Homo sapiens: one gene and its partners. The protein of the gene in region 2 interacts with the protein of the main gene of each other region in a pairwise test. Each region holds a gene or a part of one and is shown on either strand. Other genes may lie near its edges. The genes, in order: FXR2, C10orf62, KRTAP1-1 and KRT40.

Region 1 (9,152 bases), on a different chromosome or scaffold from region 2:
AAAAGGATATTTCTTGTTTTTTTGTTTGTTTTTTGAGATAGCGTCTCTGTCGCCCAGGCTAGAGCGCAGTGGCGCTATCTTGGCTTACTGCAACCTCCACCTCCCAGATTGAAGCGATTCTCCTGCCTCAGCCTCCCAAGTAGCTGGGATTACAGGTGTGTGCCATCACACCTGGCTAATTTTTGTCTTTTTTAGTAGAGATGGGGTTTCACCATGTTGGCCAGGCTGATCTCAAACTATGGACCTCAGGTGATCCGCCCACCTCGACCTCCCAAAATGTTGGGATTACAGGTGTCAGCCACCACGCCTGGCCTGACTAGAGTATTTCTGTGAGATCTTTTTGAATTCTGACATCGTATAATTGTCAGATTCCCTTTCGTTGGTATTATACTATTCTAAGTGAATAGGGTGTGTGTGTTTGAATACCATTTCCATTTATCAAGGGAATTGATCTTTTTGGGAGGCTTTTTTCTGTGCCTGTGCAATTTCTGGGTCATGATAATCTTTGACTTCTTCAGGGATCCTGCTCAGGGCACTGGCAGGTAAAAATTCACCATTACCTTCAGATGATACAAACTTTATTTTTTGTTTTTGTTTTTTGTTTTGAGATGGAGTCTCAGTCTGTTATCCAGGCTGGAGTGTATGTAGTGGTGCGATCTCAGCTCACTGCAGTCTCTACCCCCCGAGCTCAAGTGATCCTCTCACCTCAGCCTTTGGGTGGGTGGGATTACAGGTGCATGCCACCATACCTGGCTATTTTTTTTTTTTTTTTGGAGACAGTTTCCCTCTGTCACCCAGGCTGGAGTGCAATGGCACAATCTCCGCTCCCTGCAACCTCTCGCTCCTGGGTTCAAGCGATTCTTGTGCCTCGGCCTCCCAGGTAGCTGGGATAATAGGCACGCGCCCCCACGTCTGGATAATTTTTGCTTTTTTAGTGTTTCACCATGTTGCCCAGGCTGGTTTTGAACTCCCGACCGCAGGTGATCCACCTGCCTTGGCCTCCCAAAGTACTGGGATTACAGGCATGAGCCACTATACCTGGCCCTAATTTCAGTATTTTTAGTAGAGACGGAGTTTCACCATGTTGGCTAGGCTGGTCGCGAACCCCTGGCCTCAAGGGATCCACTTGCCTTGGCCTCCCAAAGTGCTGGGATTATAGACATGACCCATTGCACCCGGCCTAATTTTTGTTGTTGTTTTTTAATTTTTTGAGACGGAGTCTCATTCTGTCGTCCAGGCTGGAGTGCAGTAGTGCGATCTCAGCTCACTGCAGCTTGTGTAGTTAGCGCAGAGTGAGCAAAGGGAGACCGATACAAAATTCGGTCAGAGAGTAGATCATGTAAGACATGTACGGTAGGCTGAGGAGGGGGGATTTTATTGTGCGTATACTGAGAAGCCATTGAGTTAACAGTGCCTTCTGGTTTTTTGTTTTGTTTTGTTTTGTTTTGTTTTTGAGACGGAGTCTCGCTCTGTCACCCAGGCTGGAGTGCATTGGCGTGATCTCGGCTCACTGCAAGCTCCACCTCCCAAGTTCACGCCATTCTCCTGCCTCAGCCTCACGAGAAGCTGGGACTACAGGCGCCTGCCACCACGCCCGGCTGATTTTTTTGTATTTTTTTTTAGTAGAGATGGGGTTTCACCGTGTTAGCCAGGATGGTCTTGATCTCCTGACCTCGTGATCCACCCACCTCGGCCTCCCAAAGTGCTGGGATTACAGGCGAGAGCCACTGTGCCCGGCCGAAAGTGCCTTCTGTTTTAAACTCCTGTTTCAATGACAGATGGAAAGGGGGGCAAGAATGGAAGCAGGAACAGAGCACAGTAGTCCAGGTGAGAAACTTGAACTGGAGTGCTAAAGGAAGAGAGAGAGAGTAGTTTTATGTAGGATAAATTTTACGAGTAAAACCAGTAGGACTGACAGGCTCTGTGATACTGAGAGATACATATTTGGTCTCCTGACCAGGCTCCTGGCATTCAACTTCTAAAATCCTTGGAATCTCCAGTGATGTGTGTTTTTGTGTGCTGATGAGTTGATTCATGGCTAGCCCCTCTAGGTGGCTTCATGATTAGAGGGTTGGAACTTTCAGCCTCACCCCCACCAACTTCCTGGGAGGGGAATGGGGCCAAAGGTTAAGGCAATCACTGAGGATCAGTGATTTAATCAGTCATGCCTAGTAGTGAAGCCTCTAAAAACCGGAAAGGGGCCGGGTGCAGCGGCTCACGCCTGCAATCCCAGCACTTTGGGAAGCCGAGGCAGGTGGATTGCCTGAGGTTAGGAGTTTGAGACCAGTCTGGCCAGCATGGTGAAACCCCTTCTCTACTAAAAATACAAAAAAAGGGAGGCAGAAGTTGCAGTGAGCAGAGATCATGCCACTGCACTCTAGCCTGGGTGACAGACCCCATCTCAAAAAAAAGAAAAAAAAAAAAGAAAACCCAGCTGTTCTGCAAGCTTATCTAGAAGACGCTTATAGGTCATTGTAGATCTCTTCCCCTCCCCTCCTAATGTAGTGATTTTGAACACTCAACTTAGTTTATTTTTCCAACTTTCTCTTCTTGCCTGGTATAAATCCTTGGTATAATTCAGTCCTATCCAACTTGGAAGTGGGAAGTAGTGTATTTCAATCTAGGAATGTCTCCTTTCAGGTATTGTTTCTATTTGGTGCTTACAACATGGGATTCACTCCTCTAAAACCTTTCCTGTCTTCCTGCCCCTGAACCCAGGGGTTCCTCTAAGGACTGATTGAGAAATGAAGTGAAAGCCTGGTGTTCTAGAGGCATGTTTTCTGTTTTTCTTAACCCCTCACTTTTTTTTGAGACAGAGTTTTGCTCTGTCACCAGGCTGGAGTGCAGTGGCATGACCTCGGCTCACTGTAACCTCCAACTCCCTGGTTCAAGCAATTCTCCTGCCTCAGCCTCCCAAGCAGCTGGGATTATAGGCACACCCCACCAAGGCCAGCTAATTTTTGTATTTTTAATAGAGATGGGGTTTCACTATGTTGGCAGGATGGTCTTGATCTCCTGACCTTGTGATCCACCTGCCTCAGCCTCCCACAGTGCTGGAATTACAGGCGTGAGCCACCGCGCACAGCCTACCCCTCACTTTTTACTTAAGTTGTTGAGTTTTATTTGGGGATGAGTTGATATTTGTTTGATTAAGGTAAGAGTTCCTTACACTTGCATGTACCTTGTGAGAAGTACTTTCACACCAGCCTTGTCTAATCCTCTTGCTAGTCTTGAGAATAAGATAAGTTGGATATAATCACTTAGCAGATGACACAAGAGGCAGAGTATGTTTTGTTTAAGATCACACAGATAGATACTCTTAGGGACAGATACTGTTAGGGCCAAATCCAGAACTTCGGTGTGTCCCAGTCCAAACTCTGCCCTCTTTACCTTTCCTCCCCCACAAACCACTGGTATTTGGAAGGAGTGGAATTAAAAGTTCCTGACCTTGGCCGGGCGTGGTGGCTTATGCCGGTAATCCCAGCACTTTGGGAGGCTGAGGCGGGCGGATCACCTGAGGTCAGGAGTTTGAGACCAGCCTGGCCAACATGGTGAAACCTTGTCTCTACTAAAAATACAGAAATTAGCCAGGCATGGTGGTGGACACCTGTAGTCGTAGCTACTCAGGAGGCCGAGGCATGAGAATCACTTGAAGTCGAGAGGCGGAGGTTGCAGTGAGCTGAGATCGCGCCACTGCACTCCAGCCTGGGCGACAGAGCGAGACGCCATCTCAAAGAAAAAACAAAAAGTTCCTGACCTTTCCACACAGGTCCTCGTGGTCCGCGGACTCCAGAGTGGTTCTAGCTTTCTATTAATATCACACAGTTTTCCTTATTTAAGTTATGCAAAGGGTCGTGTGCCTGGGACTGTGAGATTCTACCACCATGATTCCTACAGTGACTTTTCCTTTCAGACAAGCAAGCAGTTGGCAGCAGCCTTCCAAGAGGAGTTCACAGTGCGAGAGGACCTGATGGGACTGGCAATTGGGACTCACGGTGCCAACATCCAGCAGGCCCGAAAAGTACCTGGGGTGACCGCCATTGAGTTGGGTGAAGAGACCTGCACTTTCCGCATCTATGGGGAGGTCAGCAAAGGATGTCTTTCTTCTGGGTCTCTTAGGGGATAGAGGGAAGAGAGGCCGAAGTAGAAAATAAGCCTCAAACTGGGCACAGTGGCTCACACCTGTAATCCCAGCACCTTCGGAGGTCAAAGTGAGAGGATCACTTGAGCCTAGGAGTTTGAGACCAGCCTGTGCAACATAGTGAGACCCAATCTCTACAAAAATTTAAAAATTAGCTGGAAGTAGTGGTGCGTACCTGTAGTCGCAGGTACTTGGGAGGCTGAAATGGGAAGATAGAGGGGAGGATCACTTGAGCCTGGGAGTTGGAGAACAACCTGGACAACATAGAGAGACCCTGTCTTTACCCCCCAAAAAAACCAAAAACCAAAAAACGTTAACTGAGCGTGGTGGCATGCATCTGTGGCCCCAGCTACTTGGCTACTTGGGAGGCGGAGGCAGGAGGATCACTTGAGCCTGGAAAGTCAAGGCTGCAGTACACCATGATGGTGCCACTGAACCAACCTGGGCAACATAGTCAATAGAGTGAGACCAAAAAATCAAAAAAATAGACCAGATCTCTGTTGCCCAAGCTGGTTGTTAACTCCTAGCCTCAAGCAATCCTCCCTTCTTAGCCTCCGAAACTGTTGAGATTATGGGTGTGAGCCGCTGTGCCTGGCCAAGGTCCTCTGTTTTTTTTTTTAAGTTATTTATTTGTTTAATTTTTTTTTTTTATGAGATGGAGTCTAACTCACTCTGTTGCCCGGGCTAGAGTGCAGTGGCACAATCTCAGCTTATTGCAACCTCTGCCTCCTGGGTTCAAGAAATCTCCTGCCTCAGCCTCCGGAGTAGCTGGGATTAGAGACGTGAGCCACCAATTTTGTATTTTTAGTATTTTAGTATTTTTGTATTTTGATTTTTGTATTTTTAGTAGAGATGGCGTTTCACCATATTGCCCAGGCTAGTCTTGAACTCTTGAGCTCAATTTATCCACCTGCCTCCAGCCTCCCAAAGTGCTGGGATTACAGGCGTGAGCCACCACATCCAGCTGGTCTTCTGTTTTAGTAACAACTCCCTGCTGTTCTTCCTTTAGACTCCCGAGGCTTGCCGACAGGCCCGAAGCTACCTTGAGTTTTCTGAGGACTCAGTGCAAGTGCCCAGGAACCTGGTTGGTGAGTTGGTGGTGTGTATATACAGTTAGAGGTCAGAATCAAGATTCTCTACAGTGATTCTGAGCTTTTATCCAGGATTGGCACCTCCCTGTGGACTCCCAGTTTCACAAGGACAGAGAAACAGTCTGTAATGGGAGTGATAAAAATGAAAGAATAAATTTCTAGGGATTGTAACATTTTGTCCTGTAAAAACACATCAGAAACCTAGAAGCAGGAGAATGAAGTAAATGGAATCCATATAAAGAAAATGAGGCTGGAAGACGGTGTATCAGCTTTATTCTTATTTCCTTAAAAAAAATAAAAGGCTGAATTCCTCATTTACCTATTCCAGGCAAAGTGATTGGAAAGAACGGGAAAGTGATCCAGGAGATTGTGGATAAATCTGGTGTGGTGAGGGTTCGAGTGGAAGGTGATAATGACAAGAAGAACCCCAGGGAGGAGGTATGGGTACGGGGCAAGTGGGCATAGAGATTGGTTTCCAGAAGTAAATGGGATTGTCCTCTGAGGGCTGGGATTGTTCTTTGAGAGGGTGGAGTACGGAAAGTTGTTTAACACTAGTAGATTTAGAGCCCAGAATGATCCCACTGGGCAGGCTCCCCTAGGAGACTGGGCGGCGTTAATCCTTCCATTTCATTTTCCTTTCTGATCCATCGTTTCTGCTCTCTGTTCTCTAGGGAATGGTTCCCTTCATTTTTGTTGGCACCCGAGAGAACATCAGCAATGCCCAGGCTTTGCTGGAGTATCACCTCTCCTACCTGCAGGTACCCAGGCCGGGAGAGAAAAATGCTGGGTGTGAAAAGGGAACTAAGACTGCTGTGGGGGTCAGCTCAGGGATTTTGGTTCTCTGTTTGTCTCTCCGTGTAGAACAGAAAACATCTGTGGAAATTTGGGGCTATAGGGTTGGGTCCCAGAATTTTCCTTGTTTAGCCAGTGTCTTCCTTCTCCCTGCATTCCTGAGAGGTTAGATATAGAGGGACAGTCAGGGTGCAGAAGCATGAAGCAAGGCACTGATCTTATTTCTCCTTCCCCTTCTTCCATCTTTTACCCAACCAGGAGGTAGAGCAGCTTCGCTTGGAGAGGCTACAAATTGATGAGCAGCTTCGGCAGATTGGGCTGGGCTTTCGCCCTCCTGGGAGTGGGCGGGGCAGCGGTGGCAGCGACAAGGCTGGATATAGCACTGATGAGAGCTCCTCCTCCTCCCTCCATGCGACTCGAACCTATGGGGGCAGCTATGGGGGCCGTGGCCGTGGCCGGAGGACAGGCGGTCCTGCCTATGGTGAGACAGTTATGGGAACAGGAGGCAAGGAGTGGCAGGGCTTGTGGGTAGAGGCAGAGGTCTGGATGGAAGTTTGGGGAAATCTGGAATGGAGATGATGAAAAAGTGATTGATTGGCTGGGAGGCTTGTGAGTGAGAAGGAGAATTCTTCCAGTTTGGGGGATGTGATGGATCCTGAGGTGGGATGAATGGCCGTGAATAAATCCCATTGTGTTCTTCAGGCCCCAGCTCAGATGTGTCTACAGCTTCAGAGACTGAGTCAGAGAAGAGAGAGGAGCCCAACCGAGCTGGGCCTGGCGACAGGGATCCCCCAACCCGAGGGGAAGAAAGCCGGAGGCGGCCGACTGGGGGCCGGGGTAGGGGACCCCCACCTGCCCCCCGGCCCACTTCGAGATACAATTCTTCATCTATTAGCTCAGGTACCAGACAGCTGGGTTCATGAATATGGGCCAAAAGGAAAGATGATGGGCACCTGACTGCCAACTCCTCCTCTTCTTCCTCTGACCAGTGCTGAAGGATCCAGACAGTAATCCCTACAGCCTATTGGACACGTCTGAACCAGAGCCCCCGGTTGATTCAGAACCTGGGGAACCCCCCCCAGCAAGTGCCAGGCGCCGCCGCTCCCGCCGCCGCCGCACTGATGAAGACAGGACCGTCATGGATGGAGGCCTGGAATCAGATGGGCCCAACATGACAGAGAATGGCCTGGGTGAGGGTGTGCCTGGGGTCTGGAAAGTTAGAGATGGGTAGGAATCGAGGGTGGGAGGTTGGATGTGTGACTCTGGTTTTTTCCTACCCTACAGAAGATGAATCAAGACCTCAACGTCGTAATCGCAGCCGCCGCCGCCGTAACCGTGGTAATCGGACTGATGGCTCTATCAGTGGAGACCGCCAGCCAGGTCAGCCAACTCTGGACACCAGAATCCTTCCTCAGAGCTGAGAGAATGGGATGCTCACCCCTGTGAAAATCAGGGGTTCGGGTTCAGTGGGTGTCTTAGGCTGGCTACCAGAATTCCATCTGAAAGTCTTAATCTCCTGCCTTCCCCAGTGACTGTGGCTGACTATATCTCACGAGCAGAGTCTCAGAGCCGCCAGAGGCCACCCCTGGAACGCACTAAACCCTCAGAAGACTCTCTTTCAGGACAGAAGGTAGGCAGGCAAGATGTGCTTTACCCCATCCCTTTTTTGTTGTTACTCTGGGGCAGGGGGCACAAAAAATTTCACAAATCTCCTACTGAATTGCAGAGGCAGCTGTGTCTGATGGAGTTTAGACCAGTGTAAACTTTGAATAGGATAGAGAAGAAAGTGTGGTTCACATTTTCTGGATCCCAAGTAAGAGAGACTGGATCATGAGATCAGGGAACCAACCTCTGGATCACCAAATGCCAGGAGGGCTTGGATGGTAGGGAATGTCTCCCACCTGAATTTCTACTCACCGCTTCTTGCTTTTCTGTTTTCTTTCCCACTTTCCCCTCAGGGTGACTCTGTCAGCAAGCTTCCTAAGGGCCCCTCGGAGAATGGGGAGCTCTCCGCCCCCTTGGAGTTGGGTAGTATGGTGAATGGGGTTTCATAAAACCTCCAACCTGCACCCCTCCCTTCTCCATCTCGCTTGCTGCCCAACACCATGGCCCTCACAGGCCCAACTGACCTGCGCTGGAGCTGCTCTTATCTAGGGGGGAGGGGGGTGGCACAGCAGCTTGGGTACCCCCCAACCTCCAGGAGCTAGTGGAGGGGTGTGTAACAGGGTCATACCCCCTCCCTCTTGTCCACCCTACCCCCAGGGTAAGGGGAGCCTCTCTCCTTCCCCATCAGACTGGATGTGCCTTTATCCTCTAATGCCCCAATCTCTCTCTGAACACCCCCATTCTCCACCTGTTGGTGGGGGGTGCTCCTCGACCCACCCAGATTTGACCGTTCAGGGGGCCTCCCCTGCTATCCCTCCTCCCATCCTGTACCCCCCATTTCTGGGGCCTCATCACTGTGGAAGACGGGGATAGTAAGAGATAAGTGGGTGGGAGGCACGGGGAAGGTTTTGGAGTAGAACCAGGGGTGTGTATGAAGGGGGGTGACAAGGTCCCCCTGGGGAGGGGACCAACCTTGTCTGGTGGATGAGAAGGCGTATTTATTTTTCACTGTACAGTATTTAAAAAGAGAATAAAAAAATCCAAATGGCTGTCTGGCTCCTGTGCCTTCTTTGTCCCCAGTTTGGTCCATTTGTTTCTCTAGGACTGACCTGCCCTGGCCCCTGGCTCTTGTTTTCTGTTCCTCCACATCTGACTTCTCTTCATTGTCTCTTGTCCCAAAGATGGTCTTACTTCTGGGAATTCCTGACATTCCTAAACTCCCCAGGCCCAGGTTCTCCCTCCTGGTTCAGAGGAGGGGGGCTTGTGCCTTGTTGCTTCTCCCCTCCCCCAAGTTTGCTGGTAGAGGGAGTTGGGCCACTCCTATACCCTGAGTCACAGCACAGGCTAGGCAGGGCTGCTCAGAGCTGGAGCTGTTCCTGTAGAAGCTGAGAGCCAAGGCAGGCTGCTTAATCCGATTACCTGAGGCCTGGGGCTTGGGCTGGGCCGTTGGGCAGAGTGGGGAGCAGGGTTCCCTCACAGCAGCCTCTGGAGCCCGGGGTCCGGCCTTCTTGGTGGTGTTCTGT
Region 2 (6,479 bases):
AATTAAATTAAATTAAATTAAGTTAAACAAACAAGAAGAAAGTGTTGTGCTCACTCAGTAGCTGTAGACTTAGGTGGTGGGGAGGTACTAACATGGATCCCAAGGGGCCCCAGGAAGCAGGTGGGGCTGGTGAGAGAACTGCCTTGTAGGATGCCACATGACTTGAGAGCAAAGATAGCACCAAGACGACAGGGGCCCTCATTCCCACCTGGCTTAGTTACTCTCCTCTGAAAGCCTGTTTCTCCTCCAAGCCCAATACCTGGCTGCTCCCCTCTTCCCTGGCAACATCAGATTGGGGGTGTTGAGACGTCTAGAGGTACCCCTTTTCCAGAACCTGAGACCAGGGTAGCTGTTTTATGGAGCTTTAAATGAGGCCCAGTGAAAAGGCCCCAGGTCGGGGGCCTTTTCTCCACTCCACTCCAGAGGACTGCTGGAGAGGGAGCCCCCTCCCTCCATCCCTGCCAGACCTTAGGCTGCCCACAGAGCCCCTGGACTCAGAGTGAAGGCACACAAAGCTTTATTGGCTCCGTTCCAGGCAATGACATCAGTGTGGGGCTCTTGCCTGCTCCCATCTGTCTTCTCTTGGTGGGTCTTCAGGGGCCTCAGGGTCTATCTCACCTGCGCTGTGTCCTCCCAGCTCTCCCTCCAACAGGGGCCATCTTCTGTGGCAGACCCCACTCATGGAGTTTAAAGAGCCCATAATCCCCGTGAGGAGCCTAAGAAAGTAGGGATTTGGGCACAGCATCTCACCCTGGCCTGCATAGATGGCCCCATAGGAGAGAAAACAGACGTGTGTGTGAGCCAGCCTTGCTGGGGGCAGGGGCGTCTCCATCCATGGTTAGGTGGCTTCCAAGAAGTCACAGATCTAGTGTCTGCGATTAGGCAGGCTGTGGCTCTGGTGGCTTGGGTGGCCATGGTGACTGTGGTGACTGTGGCCATAGAAGGTGTGTGTGTGATTGGCACCAGCTATGGTGTTTTCCCGCTGGGTGAGGAAATTCTTTTGCAGCTTCATCTCTACCTCCTCGAGGGCCCTCAGCTCCTCCTGGTTGATGTCCTTGGACTCTAGGTGACCTGAGTGCTGGTAAGCTATGGCCCGCTGCAGCATGGAGTGAGCCAGGTGCCGCCCCTGGGTGTCAATCTCCTTGGTGCAGGCAGCCACAGCGGCCCACGTGGCCTCATCAGTGGATGGGGCTTTTCCAGACTCCTGGTGGATCTCTTGGATCACTGAGGGCCCAGATGTCTTCTGCCTGCTGGTGAAGGATTCCCGGTGCAGAGCGGAGCCCACTTCTCCGTGCCTCGTGGTGAAGGTCTCTATGTGAACCGTGGAGCTGACCTCTTCACTCCCACTCTCAGTCTGGGTAGCATTGCCACTAGCGCTGGCATTGTTGTCGAGGGCCAGCTTCTCTTCGGAAAGGCGGCTAAAGTGGGATTTAATCCAGCTTTCATTCTTTGCTTTATGGGATTCTGGTGACTTGTCCTTGTCTGATGGACACTCAGAGGTTTCCTTTCTTCTCCTCTTTCTCTGAACCCACAGCATGAGACCTCCACCTCCTAGCAAGAGGGCAGTCCCCAGCACCACCTTGCATGATGGCTGCTGGATGAGCTCCAAGAAGGTCTCCAGGACCCTACACCAGGCAGGCAGAGCTAAGAGCACGCTGGGTGATCTCTGGTGGTATGATTCATGCTTGAAAGGGCAGGCTCCCCAAGGATGTCTGACAGGCAGGCCCCCTGCTGCACCCTCCCTAGGTGCCCCCCACCACCTCAACAATGAACCCCATTGTGAGGAAGGCAGTTGCGGGTGGGGTGGGGAGAGTGGGGTGGGGAGAGGCCGCAGCATCCCTCATGTCTAGCCTGGCAGGCATTGCCTGAGGCCTGGGTCCTGTCTCCTACCCTGACAGCTGTCCCCAGGCTCAGTGAAAGGGCTGCTTCTCCAATTCTGAGTCCTTCTGCCTTCTGCTTGGAATCCATTCTACAACTTAGGCCTTTGTATCTTCCAGTCTTTGGTTTCTCTCTCTCCCCATCTGGTGGCCCCCAGGGGGCAAAGTATGCTGGGTCAGGCTGGCCATGACAGAATGATCCCCTTGACTGGGCTGGTATCCATTCCTAGCCATCTGAGACCAGTGCACCTCCATCCAGTGCCCATGTCTGCTGCCAGCCTGGCATATTCCATCCTCATTTGCAGCCCCTCGCCTCACTACAGGGCAGAGTTCAGAGGGAAAAGAACCCAGGAAGGAGCTCATTCTGGAGTAACTAACATGAGGTCACAATGGGCTGAGGGTGGAGAGGCAAGCAGTGGGCTGAGAAGGCAGAGTGGACAGGAGACTTCATCGGGTCTAGATCCCTGGGGCCACTCCGGGATGGTAGCTGCTACCTCTTGCCTTAGTGAGGCACCTACAAACCCAGAATTTGCCCCCCCATAAATAGGCATGGTTCGGGTTGTGAGCAGGTGGGCTGGCTGGCCAGGCTTTCCATAGGTGCAGACAACTAAAAGCCTAATTAATCTCCAAGGCCTCTCAGGGTATAAACAGGCCTGGGCCACTGTATTTTTTTTTCCCCTCAAAAGCATCTAGCCCATTTAAAAAAAAATAAGAAATGCCAAAATGGGGTTGTAAACATTGTGATGCTTTAAACAAAATATTTTCTTTAACAGAGTAATGGTTTTAATATATACAAAATATTATATCTTTGCAAGAAAGCATGGTCCACTCTATGTATGGAAGGAATAGGACACAAGTGTTTTATGGAGAACCTCATCTTCCCAGTCCTGCTGGACTAGTTCTGTGGTTGGCTAACCTCATTTGGAAATAACAATTCAAAGTCCATCTTTGAGGGTGTTTATGGGTGTGAGTTCAGGGCCATAGAGCCCTTCTGTAATGACCCCTTCCTCTAGTCTCTGGTCATAATTTTTATTTAAAAAGAATACTCTTGGCTGGGCGCTGTGGCTCACGCCTGTAATCCCAACACTTTGGGAGGCCGAGGCGGACGATCACGAGGTCAGGAGATTGAGACCATCCTGGCTAACACGGTGAAACCCCATCTCTACTAAAAATACACACACACACACAAAAAATTAGCCGTGCATGGTGGTGGGAGCCTGTAGTCCCAGCTACTCAGGAGGCTGAGGCAGGAAAATGGCGTGAACCTGGAAGGCAGAGCTTGCAGTAAGCCGAGATCGTGCCACTGCACTGCAGCCTGGGAGACAGAGCAAGACTCCATCACAAAAAAAAAAAAAAAAGAAAGAAAAAACAAAAAGAATACTCTCTATTCAAATAATCAGTACAAATTAGCAATGCTAAAAAGATTTTTTAAAAAGAGCTACACGGGGCCGGGCATGGTGGCTCATGCCTGTAATCCCAGCATTTTGGGAGGCAGAGGCAGGCAGATCACTTGAGCTCAGGAATTCGAGATCAGCCTGGGCAACACGGCAAAATCCCATCTCTACTAAAAATACAAAAAATTAGCCGGGTATAGTGGTGTGCACCTTTGGTCCCAGCTACTCGGGAGGCTGAGATGGGCAGATTGCTTTAGTCCCAGGAGGCAGAGGTTGCAGTGAGCCGAGATCGTGCCACTGCAGTCCAGCCTGGGTGGCAGACTGAGACCCCATCTTAAAAATAAATAAATAAATAAGAGGCCCAGCGCGGTGGCTCACGCCTGTAATCCCAGCACTTTGGGAGGCCGAGGCCGGCGGACCGTGAGGTCAGGAGTTCAAGACCAGCTTGGCCAACATGGTGAAACCCCATCTCTACTAAAAATACAAAAATTAGCCAGGCGTGGTGGCAGGCACCTGTAATCCCAGCTACTCAGGAGGCTGAGGCATGAGAATCGCTTGAACCCAGGAAGCGGAGGTTTCAGTGAGGCAAATCATGCCACTGCACTCCAGCCTGAGCGACAGAGCAAGACTCTGTCTCAAAAAAAAAAGCTACACAGTTTCAGGGAGTGCTTTCCAGAAGAATCTCTAACTCTTCACTGATTCATCCAGGGCAGCTTTCCACCTCCTATTTATTTGTTTTAATAGAGACAGGGTCTCACTATGTTGGCCAGGCTGGTCTCCAACTCCTGGTCTCAAGAGATCCTCCTGCCTTGGCCTCCCAAAGTGCTGGGATTACAGGAGTAAGCCACTGTGCCTGGCCCTCATCTCCTCTTCAGAGGACCTTTAACTGGCTGCAGGAGGCCCTTACAATGTGATACGTTCCCTCCTCAGCCTGAGTGTTGGGCTGCAAAGTCTACCTCAGGGGCCAGGACAGGGCAAGAGAAACACAGATTTCAGAGCTAAAGTTGTTTGTGTCTTCCTTCCTGGGCATTTTGGCTGCACCCTGGAAGCAGGGAAGGGACCCTCTATCTCTGTGTTTTCTGTGACAGTGCCTTGGGAGGATTATATTGACCCTGTGGCTAGAAGCCTGAAGGCTCAGTTCCTATTCTAAAATGAGGACTGGATTTGAAAGGTTAAGTGGTTTCCCCAAGGTCTCTGTTAACTGGCAGAAGTGGCAGGATTCTTGCCCAGGTCCTCTAACTCAAGATGCTGGGCTCTTCCTACCACACCCCGCTGGCTCTCTGGTGTGTGGGTGAGTGATCAGATGGGAGCTGGAGCCTGCATAGGTTGCGAGGGAGACAGACAAGTGGGTATGTGCAGCCCACAGCCTGCTAAATCCACGGAAGCCTGTGCTCCTGGGCACCCCATGCCCTCTGCAAGAGTGGGTGGGTGGCCCAGAAGGGAGGGTCCAGAGAAGAGTCTGGGGGTCTCTGTGGATTCTCTGGGTGTCAGGCAAACACCAGATGCAAAGTCCACCCTCCCCACCCTGAACTAGAGCATCCTTGAACCTTGAAGCTGAAGTAAGGTCTTCACTTAGAGGCTCAAAATGCTTCTCACTTCAAGAGAACCAGGACCTCACCAAACCTCCAGGCCCCACGAGCCAAGCACCAGCAGAAACCTAACAGTTGTGCCCTGCTCAACGTGGCCCTCCACAGGGCATTCATTGTCCCCAAGGAAGGGGCACATTCCCTCAGTACTGAGCTATGAATGATCAACGTGTCCATCAGGCCAGGGGTCACAGTCACAAAGCAGCTTTGCTGCAATGCCAATCACACTGTCATTTTAATCATTATTACCATTGGAATCAGTACCTTCCAATGTATATTACTCCACAATTTATAGCACGATTTCACTTGCATTCTCTCAGATTTTTTTGTCCAACCATCCCATAATATGAGCATTATCACTCCCATGTGTCCGATAGGGACAGCAATCATCCCACACTAAGTCAGTGCCAGAGATGTGATTTGATTTTTTTTTTTTTTTTTGAGATGGAGTCTTGCTCTGTCGCCCGGGCTAGAGTGCAATGGTATGATCTCAGCTCACTGCAATCTCTGCCTCCCGGGTTCAAGCGATTCTCCTGCCTCAGTCTCCCGAGTAGCTGGGATTACAGGCACACACCACCACGCCCAGCTAATTTTTGCATTTTTAGTAGAGACGGGGTTTCACTATGTTGGCCAGGCTGGTCTTGAACTCCTGACCTCATGATCCCTCCGCCTCGGCCTCCCAAAGTGTTGGGATTACAGGCGCTCACTCCAGAGCTGTGATTTGAAACCAGAGTCCACAGTCTACACGATACTGCCTCAATAGCAGCCACAACAAAGCTAGTGCTGACCAGACACTCCGTTGAAATAGTGTGGCCTAGCAGCTCCAAAGGGTTTATAATGAGAGTCAGCGAGGGAGTAAAATGGAGCATGGGCCATGCAGTCAGACGAGGTGCAAACCTCAGCTCAGCTATGTGTTAGCCGAATGACCTTGGGCAGTGACCATGTCACTCTGAGGCCCAGATTCCCATCTGTGGGATGGTCCTACAGAGAGCACTGCCTCAGGGGATTGTGCAGTAAGGAATGGGGATGGGCGGAGCAGGGCAGGCAGAATTTGACATTTTCTTCTACCTTCATTTATTGTGCCTGGGACTCTGTTACATGTTGATTGTTGCAAATATCATCTGGTCCCTAACCTCAGAGTTGGGGAGACCCATGTGTAAAGAGAGATGGGGTCACAGGAGCCACAACAGGAGTCACAGGAGCCAAGGGGTCACAGGAGAACTAATTCTGGCAAGGAGGCTTTGTCCAGAAGAGAATGTACAAACAAACTTTGGAGGGAACTGGGACTGTGGCTGGGCTGCCACGTGACCCCAGCCACATGCCTTCACATCTGCACCAAGTGACAAGGTTGACAAGGACTTTCACGCCCATTATCCAGTCCAACCTCAGAATCACTCTGGGAGCTACAAAGGCACTTTAACAGTTTACAGCTGGGTAAACTGAAGCAGGTGAGGTTTAGCTTAAGGTTACAGGCCAGCGTGGAGCTTCCTGCCTGTCTCCTGACTCCAGACCAGTCTCCCCTGTTCCTCTCCCATAATAAAATGACCCACTGAGTACCAGACTATCCCTGGACAGCTTGACAGAGCCTGTGTACCCTCCCTTGGTCTCTGGCTAAAGGGCCA
Region 3 (8,544 bases), on a different chromosome or scaffold from region 2:
AAGGGGTATGAGGAGCTTTCATAACCTCTCTGGGAACAGCACATTCCAGGAACCTCCACACATTCAGCTATCTGGAAGCTCCTCAAACTCTGTGGGTTTTTTTTTTTTTTTTTTTTTGAACATTTTACGGGGACTTCAGTGGATGGGCATGATGGACAACCATTAGAAACGTGATTGGACAAAAAGAGTATGATCTAATGTTAGTAGAGTGAGTGATGAAACCTGTCTGTCAGATCCTTCTTGGTCTCTCTATGCAGCCTTCCTTCCTCCAGGGCATGGGGCAGAACCTCTTCTGAAATGGGGATCTTATGACCTACAATCAGGCAAGGTAGGTAGGAGAATATCTTGATGGCCAGTGCCAAGAACAGTGGGGGAAGATTCTTGCCTTGAGGAGTAAAAGGAGCAGGTGAAAAGAGGTGGGGAGAAGGCCAGAGAGAGAGAGAGAGCAAGAGCAAGTGAGTGAGCGAGAGCGAGAGAGAGAGAGATTCTGTTTTCTGAGGCCTGCTTCTGAAGTGTAAAGTGCCCTAACATCAATAAAAGGGCTATGGGAGTTATGAGCCTAGACCTTGAATGAAATGTGTATATTCGTTACATGCTATTACTCTGTAATCTTGTGTTTGTATTCTTTCACAATTTTTATTATGCTTTTGTATATCTTGGAGGACAGAAATAATTGTATACAACCTCATATATGAATGGATGAATGAATAGATTTGGCAAAACCTCAAGAAGCTGAATCAATCTGTTGGAATACCTAGCCCACCACTTTGCACATGAGAGGACCTTAGGAAACAGTTCCTAAATGTTGTCAAGTTCCTTTAATCATATGTCTTGGCTGCAAAATATTGGACCATTTAATGGTAAAACAAAGGAAAATTGCTGTTAAATATCATCATTAAAAGAGCAAAAGTACAGAAAAACCATAGTGTCATGTCATGTTGATATTTTGAAAAATCCCAGTACCCCAATATTGTTAATAAATTCCAAAGCAAAGAAAGTTCAAACAACAACTTCATCATTGAAGAGATGAAAACTTTTATTAAATTTAAGTCCCAATAACTGTTGAAATATTTCAGGTGATATTTATAGTAAAATAGTATCTAACTCTTTTCACATTGTAGGACTTTGGCTGACAACCAGGTCTAGGAAAAATTTTTGGTCTTCCATTGTAAATGAATTTACTTCCTAGGGAATTTATGTGGCTGTGTGATGAGAGGTTGCAAGCCCAGTTATAGGTACTGGAGTTCAGAAGATTGTTAGGATTCTAATTTGGCTAGTTTTAAGGTGCCATCTTATCAGGATCCCCAGCAGAAGGAGGTTTTCAACAAGTGGGCTCAGAGCAGTAGCAGCAGCAGACTGGGCGGCAACAGGACTGTCCACAGTAGGATGGGCGGCAGCAGGAGGCCTCGGCGTGGTGCAGCTGGCAGCAGGATGGGGGTGTGCAGCTCACCACGCAGCAGGGGGGCAGGCAGGTACCCTCCACACGGCAGTCTGGGCGGCACCACCTGATACGGGTGCTCACAGCTCCACTGCTGCCCTCCTGGCCATAGCCAATGCCACCACCAATGCCACAGCCAGTTCCGCAGGAGCTGGTCTGGTAGCAGCTTGGCTGGCAGCAGCTAGTTTCACAGCAGCTTGGCTGGCAGCAGCTAGAGTCACAAGTCCCACCGGTTGAGAAGCTAGGAAATCCACAGAAGCTGGTCTGGCAGCAGCTTGGCTGGCAGCAGCTGGTCTCACAGCAGCGTGGCTGGCAGGAGCTGGTCTCACAGCAGCTTGGCTGGCAGCAGCTGGAGCCGCAGGTCCCACTGGTGGAGCAGCTGGGAAATCCACAGAAGCTGGTCTGACAGCAGGCCATGGTGTCAGGAGTTGATCTGAAGGTTGGGTTGCTTGGAGGAGTTTCTGAATTATGGCTGCCTATTCCACTGCCGGCTTTTTATAAGTCTGGGCCAATTCCTCTATTTGTGGCGAGCAACATTTTTATCTTGTTACTCTTTAAACCAGCCTTTCTAGGGCCCTCTGATGGTTCAAATGCTGAATTGTTTTAAATATATCTCAAAATTGATTTTTCCTTATTGCTCAGCTAATACTCACCAAATGTGTTTGTCCTTGGTAAAAATGTTAACATTTTGTTTACAAACAATGGTATAATTTCCACTTGAGCTTCAGCTTCAGGTTTGCACTTGTGGGTATATCACCTGACAAAGTGACTCTCACCCATAAGGTGATGTGATTTTGGAGATCATATTCACCAAACCTCAGGTCTCCAGAAAAGAATTATTAATCATGATTGCCCTTATGTAAGACTGCTTTGTATTTTTTAGACTAATAAGATTATCCTCTCTCGATATAATCTTATTAGCCAGATAGAAACTCTGATAAACTCTATATTCATAGAAATTCATAGATTTTTCCCTGAAATGGAATCTTTCCAATTTCTGTGATATCTCCTGAACTTCACATTCATATTTTAGGAAACATTGATCACTCAGGAGGATATATAAAACAAAACCTGTTCAATTTCAATGTCTCTTAAAAAAGAGGCTAAAATTCATATTCAGTAATTGGAAAAAATTGCAAAATATTTTAACAAAATTTACACTTCTCTATGAAAGACAAAAATCACTTGTATATGGATTATCTGGCATATAATTTTTCAAAGGCAGAATTTAATTTTAATTTATGTCATTTCAAGTTACTAAACCATGTGTCCTGTGAAAAGATATTAGACCAAAGAGCATGACAACTGAATTTAGGAAAGGGAATAAATCAAAGAAAAAGCAAGAGTTAGAAAATACTTTTATCTGCTTTATAAGGCAGGTTAGAAAATGGGTGACCAAATATAGTTCAAGAGGTGTAGTATAATAAATGCAAAGAGATTAAGAAAAATTTCAGCAAAATAAAAGTTAAAACAATTCCTGGTCATTGCCAGAAGAAAGAATGTAATTTTCACTGGGAGTTTAGGGTTACGTGAGATAAATGAAAAAAGGCTGGTCAAAAACATATTATTTCTACTTGGGGTAGGTTTATTTCTCCCTTCCAATCATGAATAGAAACACATAGTTAGCTTTTTATGAGGTGGTGGCATTTGTTTGTACAGGAATGGGGTTATATCACAATGTGATTCATGCCAGCTTCAGTAAAGATGTTCACGTCATATGGTAACCATGACTGTAGGTATGAAGTTGAAAATGGTTATATGTAATCAATGAATGTTGGAGATCAAAAATGTAGTAAATTATCTTGTTCCACCACTTAATTTTATAGGTGTAGAAACTGACATCATTCTTATTATAAATAGCACATATTTATTAACTTCTACTATGCCCAGAGCACTAAAGGCTTATACAGAAAGCAAGATCCCATCTATTTGTTTTGTATCTTGCTCTAGTATAAAAATCAGTGTAGTAGCAATAGGAGGGATTAATCAAGGAAAAGAGTTGAGTATAGAACCATTTAGTCTCAAAGTTCTAAATGGGAACATTGGTGATGTGCTATGGAGCACTTTTCATTTTCACTTAACATCGGCTGATGTTAGAATACTCTTGAGTCTTGAAGAGGTTAAGTGGCTTGTTCCATTCACACAGTACACAACCAGAAGAGCTGGGTATAAAATTCCTATCACTTGTTCCTAGACCAGTTCTTTTTATTTTATACCATGCTGCTTTTCAGAATCAATTAATGTTAGTAAGGCTCTTTGTCTTTGTCTTTTTTTCTAAAAAAAAAAGGTATTTTGTAATAGCACAAGAATAGAAATATTAGATGGTAGAGAGATGGCACTATGGAGTAGTGATTTTAAATACACAATAAATAAGTACAAATATGTTAAAGTTCTTTTAAGTATCTGGACCAGAGACTTATAATTGGAATAAGTCACATTTGCCTCCTAGTTGTTTTTTGTTTCCCACATTCAACTAAGTTAATATACTTTCTGGGTTTCTACATCTGCTATACTCATTGTGTCTTCTTTATTCCATGGGTATTATCTTAGTTGAGCTCTTATTGTAATCACTTGACCAAGGCAATATCTTCCTGATTAGTTTCTGTATAGTTCTGTACGACTCATTTCTCTGGCCTTTGACCTCTGTCTTTATAAGGAGCTATCATGAGAATTGTCCCAATGCCCTGCTCTTGTTATGCCATTTTCCTGCCCCAAAGCTTTCAACAACTCCTTACTGCTTATTGCATTAAGGGTGTACTCCGTTGGCTAGTATTCAAAGCATACAAATTTTCCAAATCTTTCTTTCATTATCACTCTATATATATCCAGTGCCCCCAGCCAAACCGTACTCTGAACAACCCTATGGTTCCCCTCCCTCCACACCTTTGCTCATACTATTTCTATTGCTGAGAATGCCATCCCTGTGATCTGGACACCACAATCTGAACCTATATAAAATGTTAGCTTCTCTTTTCAATCTTTCTTATTTTCCCCAACCAACAGTGACTTCTGTGTTGACACCACACAGTGTTGTACTTTTATTTTTTAATATTCTAGTTTTTAGATGAATTATAGGTGAATATGACTCATGTCTCTAGAATCTTTTTGAAGATGGGAACATTTTTAATTCAATTTTACTTTCTATTTTATACCATATAGCCTGTGACTTGCATATGGTAGGCAAGCAGCACATTTAGACCCTATTTCTTAACTCATTTAAAAACAACCCAAAATGGATTAAATACTTAAATATAAGACCACATATAATAAAACAACTAGAAGAAAACCCACAGGAAACATTTTATGACACTTGTCTGGGCAATGGTTTTTTCTTGGGGGGATAAGACCTCAAAGGCACAGGCAACAAAAGTGAAAGTAAACAAATGGGATTATATAAAATTAAAACCTTCTGCACAGCAAAGGAAACAATCAAATCAGCAGAGTGAAGAGACAGCCTAGAGAATGGGAGAAAATATTTTCTTTTTTGGTACTTTTTTTTTTATTATACTTTTAAGTTCTAGGGTACATGTGCACAACGTGCAGGTTTGTTACATATGTATACGTGTGCCATGTTGGTGTGCTGCACCCATTAACTCATCATTTACATTAGGTATATCTCCTAATGCTATCCCTCCCCCCTCCCCCCACCACACAACAGTCCCCGGTGTGTGATGTTCCCCCTCCTGTGTCCAAGTGTTCTCATTGTTCAATTCCCACCTATGAGTGAGAACATGCGGTGTTTGGTTTTCTGTCCTTGTGATAGTTTGCTGAGAATGATGGTTTCCAGCTTCATCCATGTCCCTACAAAGGACATGAACTCATCATTTTTTATGGCTGCATAGTATTCCATGTATATGTGCCACATTTTCTTAATCCAATCTATCATTGATGGACATTTGGGTTGGTTCCAAGTCTTTGCTATTGTGAATAGTGCTGCAATAAACATACATGTGCATGTATCTTTATAGCAGCATGATTTATAATCCTTTGGGTATATACCCAGTAATGGGATGGCTGGGTCAAATGGTATTTCTAGTTCTAGATCCCTGAGGAATCGCCACACTGTCTTCCACAATGGTTGAACTAGTTTACAGTCCCACCAACAGTGTAAAAGTGTTCCTATTTCTCCACATCCTCTCCAGCACCTGTTGTTTCCTGACTTTTTAATGATCACCATTCTAACTGGTGTGAGATGGTATCTCATTGTGGTTTTGATTTGCATTTCTCTGATGGCCAGTGATGATGAGCATTTTTTCATGTGTCTGTTGGCTGCATAAATGTCTTCTTTTGAGAAGTGTCTGTTCATATCCTTCACCCACTTATTGATGGGGTTGTTTGTTTTTTTCTTGTAAATTTGTTTGAGTTCTTTGTAGATTCTGGATATTAGCCCTTTGTCAGATGAGTAGATTGCAAAAATTTGGGAGAAAATATTTTCAAACTATGCATCTGACCAGGGGTTAATATCTAGAATATATAAGGAACTTGAACAACTCAACAGTGAATAATAATAAAAAATCCAATTAAAAATAGGTAAAAGACCTGAATAGATATTTCACAAAAGAAAACATACAAATTTCCAACACATATATGAAGAAGTGCTCAGCATCACTAATCATCAGGAAATGCAAATCAAAACCGCAATGAGATACCATATCACCACAATTAGAATGGCTATTATCAAAAATACAAAAAGATAACAAATGCTGGTGTGGATGTGGAAAAAAGGGAACTCATACAAGGTTAGAGGGAATGTAAAGTAGTATAGCCATTATGGAAAACAGTATGGAGGGTTCCCCAAAAATTAAAAATAGGACGATCATGTGATCCAGGAATCCCACTACTGAGTATATACGCAAAGGAAATGAAATCAGTATGTTGAGGAGATTTCTGCACTTCCATGTTTATTGCAGCACGATTCACAACAGCCAACATATGAAAACAATCTAAGTGTTCATCAATGGATGAATGGATAAAGAAAATGTGACACACACTCACACCCAAACACACAATGAAATACTATCAGCCATGAAAAAGAATGAAATACTGTCATGTGCAGCAACATGGATGAACCTGGGGGACATTATGTTAAGTGAAATTAACCAGGCACAGAAAGACAAATAGCACATTCACTCACTCCTATGTGAAATCTAAAGAAGTTGATCTCATAGAAGTAGAGAGTAGAATAGTGACTACCAGAGGCTGGGGAGGGTGAGAGGAGGGGAGGATAGGCAGAGATTGGTCTACAGGTACAAAGTTACAGGTAGATAGGAGGGATAAGTTTTGGTATTCTAATGTACAGTAGGGTGACTGTGGTTAGTAATATTTTATCATATATTTCAAAATAGCGATCAGAGAATATTTTAAATGATCTTACCATGAAGAAATGATAAATGTATGAGGTGACGAATATGCTAAACACCCTGACTTGATTATTACACAACGTATACATGTATGGAAACATTACATTGCACCCCATAAATATGTACAATTATGTGTCAGTTTTTTTAATTAAAAAATTAATTTAATACAAAATATTAGAATGAGTAAATAAAACCAAATCTTTTTGCAAGGCCAAAGAACAGATATTTATTAGAAAATAAACATGCCACGAAATCTTAAGAAGAAGGAAATTGCTTCTTTTACAGACTTCAGAATGGCCCAGGTCTTAATAGATGAGCCCAGTGCTCGGTTCCCTGCTTGGTTGATGTGGGGTTTTGTGGGCTCAGGGCAGGAGGTTTGTTAAAGTAGAGAAATGGGAGTGTGACTTTTTCAGAAGGTGAGTTACGCGTTCCGGGCAGTCAGTGCACTGCTCAGCAGGAGGAGGTCCTGCAGGTGGTGCTGCAAGGGGTCGGCTGGCCGCAGGGGGACTGCACAGACACAGGCTGGCAGCAGGTGGTGGCTCAGCAGGAGGAGGTCCTGCAGGTGGTGCTGCAAGGGGTCGGCTGGCCGCAGGGGGGCCGGCAGCAGGGGGACTGCACAGACACAGGCTGGCAGCAGGTGGTGGCCCAGCAGCAGGGCCTGCACACCACAGCCGTGCACGACGAGGGGCAGCAGGTGATGGGGCGGCAGCAGCCTTCCTGCAGGGAGCAGGGGTCGCAGCACACCGGGCGGCGGCAGGGCTCGCAGATGGGGCGCGTGCAGCGGGGCACGCAGGTCACGGGGCGGCACACGGTGGTCTGGCAGGTCACGGGGCGGCAGCAGCAGGGGTCGCGGCAGCAGCAGGGCTGGCAGCAGCCTCCCCCGTAGCTCAGGGAGGAGAAGGTGGAGCCGCAGCAGGAGCCGGTCATGGTGGTGTCTGAGGCTGGTGTGGGTTGGGCTGTGGAGAGGAGCTGGATGTTCTCAGGTGTGAATGTCCTCCTCCCCCTCTGGGCCCTTTATATACCCTGGCCGGGTGCAGGTGACCCTTTTCGTTTACCTTTTGGCCAATTAAGTAGAATTTTGTTTTGACTAATGGTTGCTTGTGACACACTCATTATCTCACTAAAGAGCTCTTGTTTTATCTCTAAGTATGGATGTACTCACATTGGGTGAAAATCTAAGAACTCATCGTCATTTGAGGTGATAGTAGCTCTTGATGCTTATTTTGAGTAGATAACACTGGATCAAATCTGGACAAAACGGTCTAAAAAAACTTCAGTTTTTAAAAGAAATTAAAAACATAGAGAAGTACATAGAACATTGAGTAGAGCCTATCCTGACCCCAATAGGGGACTCAAGTCCTTGGAAGCACCTACATGTGAAACGTGAATCACACGAGTGTTAGACAAGCCCTCCCACGTAGTCTGCTTGGGAATACGTTTGATTATCACTTGATATAGTGGGATACATAGGCCTTGAATAGGATAGCAGCTCATAGAGTTGTACAGGACAGACAAAAATTTTTGCAAACCACTAAGTGTTGGAATAAAACCTCCAAGACTGCCTTGCATGTTTTCTTTTCTCTAGTTCAGGTTCTGTGCAACTCTGGTCTTTCTGTCATAAGATGCTGATTTTTATCTCTGAAACATGTCATTTTTTAGCGTTGCCTTTCTTGTGCATGTAATGAAGAATTCTGTAATGGGAAATTTTTCTGAATATACCTTGTTGGCCGGGCGCAGTGGCTCATG
Region 4 (6,264 bases), on a different chromosome or scaffold from region 2:
CGCCTGGCCGACAGTTTTTTTTTTTCTTTTAGCATTTGAAAACTATTGTATTACTTCATATTGGCTTCCATGGTTTATGGTGACATACCTGCCATCAATTAAATTGTTTTCTTCTATTGGTAAGGTGTCATTTCTCTCTCACTGCTTTCATAATTTTTTTTGTCTTTAGCTTTCAAAAGTTTGAATATGATATTTCCTGGTGTAGATTTCTTAGGGTTTATCATTTTTGGGGTTTGCTTGGTTTCTGGAATCTGTAGGTTTTTGTCTTTTGCCATATTTGTAAATTTTCAGTGTTTATTCCTTCAAATGTTTTTGGCTTCACTTTTTCTCCTCCCTTACAGAACTCCACTGACATGAATGTTAGATCGTTTGATATAGCCCCAAAATTCCCTGAGACTCTATCTTTTTAACACTATTTTTTTTCCGTTTTTCAGGTCGGATGATGTCTATTATTGTATCATCAAATTCCCTGATGTTTTCCTCTCTGGCCTGCATTCTGCTGTTAAGCCCATCTCCATTGAGGTTTCTATTTTGGTTCTATGGTATGTTTCAGTTCTGAAATTTCCACTGGAGTCTTTCCATCTTCTTCATTGAGTCTTCTCTATTTTTGCATTTGTTGTAAGAGTTTATTGAAGCATTGCTTACTGAAGCATTTTTATGATGACTATTTAAAAATCATTGTCAATAAGTAAAATAGTGTAACTGGATGTTTGTAACACCAAAGATACATGCTTGAGGGGATGGACACCCCATTCTCCATGTGATTATTACACATTGCATGCCTGTGTCAAATCATCTCATGTACCCCATAAATATATACATCTATGTACCCAGAAAAATAACAAATAAAAAGTTAAAAACCCTTGTCAGTTAATTCTAACGTCTTTTTCCTCTTGATGTTTGAATTTGTTGATCATCTTTTTTCCTGTAAGTTGAGATTTTATGATCCTTGGTATAAAGAGCAATTGTTGATTGAAACCTGGACATTGGGGCATTATGTTATGAGATTCAGGATACTGTTTAATCTTATGTTCTAGCAGGTCTCCTCTGACACTGTTTTGGCAGGGGAAGGGGGACACTGCTTCATTCCTACCAGGTGGGAGTAGAAATACAGGTTCTCTCCACTTTGCCCCTATTGACACCCAAGGGGAGAGCCCCCCTCATCACTGCTGGGAGGGAGGATTTTAGACTCCTTACCTGGCCTCTGCTGATACCACCCTGGCCAGGAGGGGCAGGAATATCTTGTTATTGCTCCCATGCAGCTTCCACTGACACTGCATGGGGGTGGCCTTGGTACTGCTGGAGGAGGGAAAGAGTTCTGACTGTCCAGTAGGACTCTTGTGACACTAACCCCAGAGGAGAAAAGAAGAGCCTCACTGCAGCCTGTAGAGTTAAGTCCAGGCTTCCCGTGTGGTCTCCACTGATACCATGATGGTGGGACAGGGAGTGCTTCCATGTCTCATAGTAGGAATGAAAGTCCTGGATCTCTCACTTAGCCTTCCCTGATTCCACCCCAGTGGTGAAGTTTGAGTGCCTTATTACAGCCTGGGAAGGATAGAAGTCTGGACTCCCCACCTGGCCTTTCCTTGTGTGGATATGGGTGGGTGAAATGATATTTTCTGTGGTGTTTGGCTGAGTTGAGTGGTTATTGTCTAAAGGTTTTCCGCCTTTCTAGGCTGCCTCTTTTCTGGTTCTTTAAGCAGAGCAAGCTCTTTCTGTTTGTTTGTTTGTTTGTTTTGTCTGCACCTGTTGGTGTTTCTGGTTGTTGGTTTCTCCAGCTCCCCCTCTGGGATATATGAGATAAAAAGCTAATCCAGGGAGCTCACCACAGTGTCACTCCTGGAGTCTCAACATCTTTAGGTGGTTTGGCTTCTTCTTCTACCTTTCAGAGTCCTCTTATGTTTATTTGATATGTAATTTCCAGGGTTTTTAGGAGGAGGAATATGGAAATATACATCATTCTGGAAGTTCTCTACCTTGTTTTTTAAATATATGAGAATAATTATTCTTATAACCTAAATGTCCAATAACAGATCAATGTACCTTATGGTACATTATGCAACCAGTAAAATGATGGCTACAGGCTGGGTGCAGTGGCTCACACCTGTAATCCCAGCACTTTGGGAGGCTGAAGCTGGTGGATCACAAGGTCAAGAGATTGAGACCATCCTGGCTAACACGGTGAAACCCTGTCTCTACTAAAAAAAAAAAAAAATTAGCCTGGTGTGGTGGCAGACACCTGTAGTCCCAGCTACTTGGGAGGCTGAGGCAGGAGAATCGCTTGAACCCAGGAGGCAGAGGTTGCAGTGAGCCCAGATAGTGTGACTACACTCCAGCCTGGGTGACACAGCAAGACTCTGTCTCAAAAAAAAAATAAAAAATAAAAAAAGTGATGGCTACAATACAATCTTATGTTTTTATTAGAATTAAAAATGCTTAGATGACATAAATGAAAGAAAGTTTACACAAGTGTGTGCATATGTTAGTATGATTATAGCTGTGTGGAAAAATCTATTATAAGAAAGAAAACTGGAAGAAAGTACCCCAAAATATTGACTATGGCTGTTTGGAAGATGAAATCATAAGTGACCTTTTCCCTTTTAATGAGCCAAATTTAAAAAAAGAGAATCTAGTACTTTTATAATCAAAAAATACATTTTATCATATTTTATTCCTAATATTTTTCCTCAGAAAGATACACACAACTATTTTCTAAGATATATGACATTTCTCATGGGTTCATTAATTTATTTGTATTTGAGGAGTTAAAAAATATTTTCAGCCTGGGTTTATGTACATTGAAACTATGGTTATGGGTTTAGATGATTTCCTTGCCATAAAATGAATATTCTATCAACAGTAATCAGCCATAGAGCTATATTTACCACGCTAAAGGAATAAAACACGTTTTATTTGGAGATGAGCAAGAATGCTTTATGGGCTTCCAGTATACCACAAATAAGCCGGAAGGAGAGGAAATAGTAAAGCAGAAAGACTGAGGATACCTGGAGGGCAATTCCAGGATATGAGAGCCTCCTGGATTTGTGCTTCCGGTTTGGATGTCCCTGGTTGAAGCCCCATCTCCTTTCTAGGATGCTGCTGGCTTTGATTCCTCTACCTGCTGTCCTTAACATTCACAAGCAGCAGTTTTCAACAGTGCAGATGACATAGGCTGAGCATGGCTCACAAGTGTTGCTCGAGGTGCATGTGGTCGAACATGGGCTACAGGAAAGCCTGGGGAAAAATCGATTTTCAACCAAGATTAACAAGGGAATGTTGATAAAATGGCAACTCAGAAAAACCGTGTCAAAATTTGCCCTACAAATTATGTTCTGAAAAAAACTCTGCACAATAGCATTGACTGAAGCCTGTTTCTTCTCTGCACCCAGAATTGCCACTTCATGTTCACTGTAGCAGTGGCAGTTGAATAGTATTTTATATTTTTTCTTGATTTTGCAAATGTTATCTTAGGCCTATTCCTGATTTTCCTTTAGTGGAAAACAGGAACAAAGGGAGATGCCAGCATGAAATGTTACACTAATAATTAATCTGCCTTTAGAATATTTTAAAAATATCTCTAGTGTCATGTTCTTAACCTCAGCCACTTTTCAGCACTTTTTTAAGAAGATCCCTAAACACACTGGGGAGGTCTGAACTTGTCCAGACTTTGGGGAAACAGGATTCTTTTACATCAGCCTCTTTGTGACTCTGGGGGATTTCATGAGTAACTGTGGAACTTGCCTGCTGTCCTCGCTGTCCAGCAGGCCCCAGTACGTGTTGATCTCACCCTCCAGCCGGGCCTTCACGTCCAGGAGCACCTGGTACTCCTGGTTCTGTCGCTCCAGGTCGCAGCGGATCTCGGCCAGCTGGTTCTCCAGGTTATCGATCAGACACTGAATTTGGGCCAGCTGGGAGCTGTACTGGGCCTCGGTTTCTGCCACGGTGCATTCCAGAGATTCTGTCTGCGGGAGGAAACATTGTCCAAAGGACCATGAAGTGCAGTCTCTCGGGCCAGAGTGCCTACTTTCAAATTCCTGCTTACCCTTTTCTAGCTATGTGACCACTGGCAAATTATTTAGCTTCTGTGAGTCTCAGTTTTATTCTCTGTATAGTGGAGAATACAAAGTATCTGTTTCATTAGACGGTTGTGAAGATTAAGAGTTAATATGCGGGCTGGGCGCGGTGGCTCAGGCCTGTAATCCCAGCACTTTGGGAGGCCGAGGCGGGCGGATCACAAGGTCAGAAGATCGAGACCATCCTGGCTAACACGGTGAAACCCCGTCTCTACTAAAAATATAAAAAATTAGCTGGGTACGGTGGTGGACGCCTGTAGTCCCAGCTACTCAGGAGAATGGTGTGAACCCGGGAGGCAAAGCTTGCAGTAAGTCAAGATCATGCCATTGCACTCCAGCCTGGGCGACAGAGGGAGACTCCGTCCAAAAAAAAAAAAAAAGAGTTAATGTGCGTAAAGCATTTAGAACAGTGCCAGCCATACTGCCACTGTTCTACGTGTCAACTATCACTACCACCACTATGACTACAGCAATACATGACATATTTGTGAAGCTTAAGGACTATCCACAACATATGAGAGGAAAGATTGAGTTTGGGCTCTTGGCAGGGAGGGGTAGTATAGTGCTATTAAGAGAAGAGGCTCTGGATACCAGAGGCTGGGACTGGCATATGTGTGGTAAGGGGATGAAGAGAGGTTGGTTAATGGGTGCAAACATACAGTTAGACAGAAAGAATATGTTTTCATGTTGGACAGCAGAGAAGTGTGACTACAGTTAACAACAATACACTGTGCATTTCAAAATAGCTAGATGGGAGGACTTGAAATGCTCCCAACACATAGAAATGATAAATACTTGAGGTGATGGATGCTCTAAATATCCTGACTTGATCATTACACATTCTATGCATGTAACAAAATATCACATCTACGTAAAAAAAATTTACGCATATTATATATCAATAAAAATAAATTTAAAAAGAGAGAGAGAAGAGACTCTGGGATTCAACTGGCTGAACTCAGCTTCCAAGTTTGCCTCTTAGAATTGCATCCTTTGCAAGTTACTTAATCTGAGTCTCAGTTTTCCTTATCTGTGTCATGGGATAAAGGTATCTATCCGGTAAAGTTACTGTGAGCCTTAAATCAGCATAGTGCCTCTCACAGGATGAATGCTCAGCTATTGTTCTTCTAGGTGTTCTCCGCAGGGCCTAATGACATGCACACAGTGGTGCTTGACCAGAACTGGTTCATGTCATCTTGAACGCATGGTGTTCCTGTTGCTTGAGTGGGGGGTGGTGCAGTGAAGGATAAGGTTGAAGTGTAGATCCTGGGAAACTGTAGGATGAAATGTTTGAAAATGATTCTTTGTTTTAGATATAACAGTGAGCCTGGAAAACTGGCCTGAATCAAATGAGAATTAAAACCTGCCAGAATGCTTAAGCGACCATGGCCCGGAGGTTTCTCTCCAGCTCTGCTTCTCCCTCCCTGTCTCTGGAGGCTGCTGCAGCATCAGACTCAAGCCCAGGAGTGAAGGTAAGGCATCTTAGAGGACAAGCTGTGGACCTGTCACTTCTGCTTCTATTAATAGCTGGGTAAACGGCAGTACTCGGGAAAGGCAAGGAAATGTGATCCTCGGATATGGAAGAGGGCTTAACATCTCAGGGCCTGACTTATCAGTGACACAACGGACACTGCCTTTGCCTCACGCACCAGGCTTTGCTGTGCTTGGAGCTCAATTTCCAGAGCACTGGCTGTGCGTTTCAGTTCCAAGATCTCCATCTGGCAGCCCTGCAGCTGCTCCGCGCTGGACAGTTGCTGCTGATTCAGCTCTTCTGTCTGAAACACAGACACCATTAGAGAATTCAAAAAAGGCAGAAGTCTGTAAGCCTGACATTTTTTCAATCTGGGTACTGACCTGAACAGCCAACCATTCTTCAGCTTCTCTGCGATTGTTGGCAAGCACCGTTTCACACTGACAGCGCATCTCATCCAGGACCCTGTTGAGGTCAAGGGTGGGGGCAGTGTCCAGCTCCACACTGAGGCGGTCGCCAAGCTGTTCACGAAGCAAGTTGACTTCCTGAAAGTGGGATGGTGTAAAGAATGTCACAGAATGGTGGGGAAAAATCCATTTGACATCCAATGGCATTCTACTTCTGTTTTTTGGAGCAGTGGGTAAAAGTGTGAGATTTTGATTCAGATTGCCTGGGCTGAATCTCTTTTCACCACTTAGAAGGGCCTCAGTTTCTTCGTCT

What was found.
Region 1: the proteins of C10orf62 (region 2) and FXR2 interact in binary tests that used the Homo sapiens proteins (3 or more experiments, as listed by UniProt).
Region 3: the proteins of C10orf62 (region 2) and KRTAP1-1 interact in binary tests that used the Homo sapiens proteins (3 or more experiments, as listed by UniProt).
Region 4: the proteins of C10orf62 (region 2) and KRT40 interact in binary tests that used the Homo sapiens proteins (3 or more experiments, as listed by UniProt).

Annotation. Positions count from the first base shown.
Region 1 is NC_000017.11:7,590,756-7,599,907, reverse strand, and holds the end of FXR2 (RNA-binding protein FXR2), read left to right. Parts: intron 1-3,913; coding exon 3,914-4,084; intron 4,085-5,150; coding exon 5,151-5,229; intron 5,230-5,560; coding exon 5,561-5,670; intron 5,671-5,903; coding exon 5,904-5,990; intron 5,991-6,282; coding exon 6,283-6,505; intron 6,506-6,726; coding exon 6,727-6,924; intron 6,925-7,013; coding exon 7,014-7,214; intron 7,215-7,308; coding exon 7,309-7,404; intron 7,405-7,553; coding exon 7,554-7,654; intron 7,655-7,750; coding exon of another isoform or gene 7,751-7,786; exon of another isoform or gene 7,787-7,842; intron 7,843-7,982; coding exon 7,983-8,078; 3' UTR 8,079-8,678; downstream 8,679-9,152. UniProt on the Homo sapiens protein: mRNA-binding protein that acts as a regulator of mRNAs translation and/or stability, and which is required for adult hippocampal neurogenesis. Specifically binds to AU-rich elements (AREs) in the 3'-UTR of target mRNAs.
Region 2 is NC_000010.11:97,584,956-97,591,434, reverse strand, and holds C10orf62 (uncharacterized protein C10orf62), read right to left. Parts: upstream 1,715-6,479; 5' UTR 1,538-1,714; coding exon 866-1,537; 3' UTR 501-865; downstream 1-500.
Region 3 is NC_000017.11:41,039,543-41,048,086, forward strand, and holds KRTAP1-1 (keratin-associated protein 1-1), read right to left. Parts: upstream 1,909-8,544; 5' UTR 1,856-1,908; coding exon 1,322-1,855; 3' UTR 999-1,321; downstream 1-998. Other genes in the region: KRTAP2-1 (keratin-associated protein 2-1), read right to left, coding at 7,339-7,725. UniProt on the Homo sapiens protein: In the hair cortex, hair keratin intermediate filaments are embedded in an interfilamentous matrix, consisting of hair keratin-associated proteins (KRTAP), which are essential for the formation of a rigid and resistant hair shaft through their extensive disulfide bond cross-linking with abundant cysteine residues of hair keratins.
Region 4 is NC_000017.11:40,975,063-40,981,326, forward strand, and holds the end of KRT40 (keratin, type I cytoskeletal 40), read right to left. Parts: exon of another isoform or gene 6,263-6,264; coding exon of another isoform or gene 6,239-6,262; exon of another isoform or gene 6,090-6,238; coding exon 5,928-6,089; exon of another isoform or gene 5,849-5,927; coding exon 5,723-5,848; exon of another isoform or gene 3,963-5,722; coding exon 3,742-3,962; intron 3,235-3,741; coding exon 3,135-3,234; 3' UTR 2,653-3,134; downstream 1-2,652. UniProt on the Homo sapiens protein: May play a role in late hair differentiation.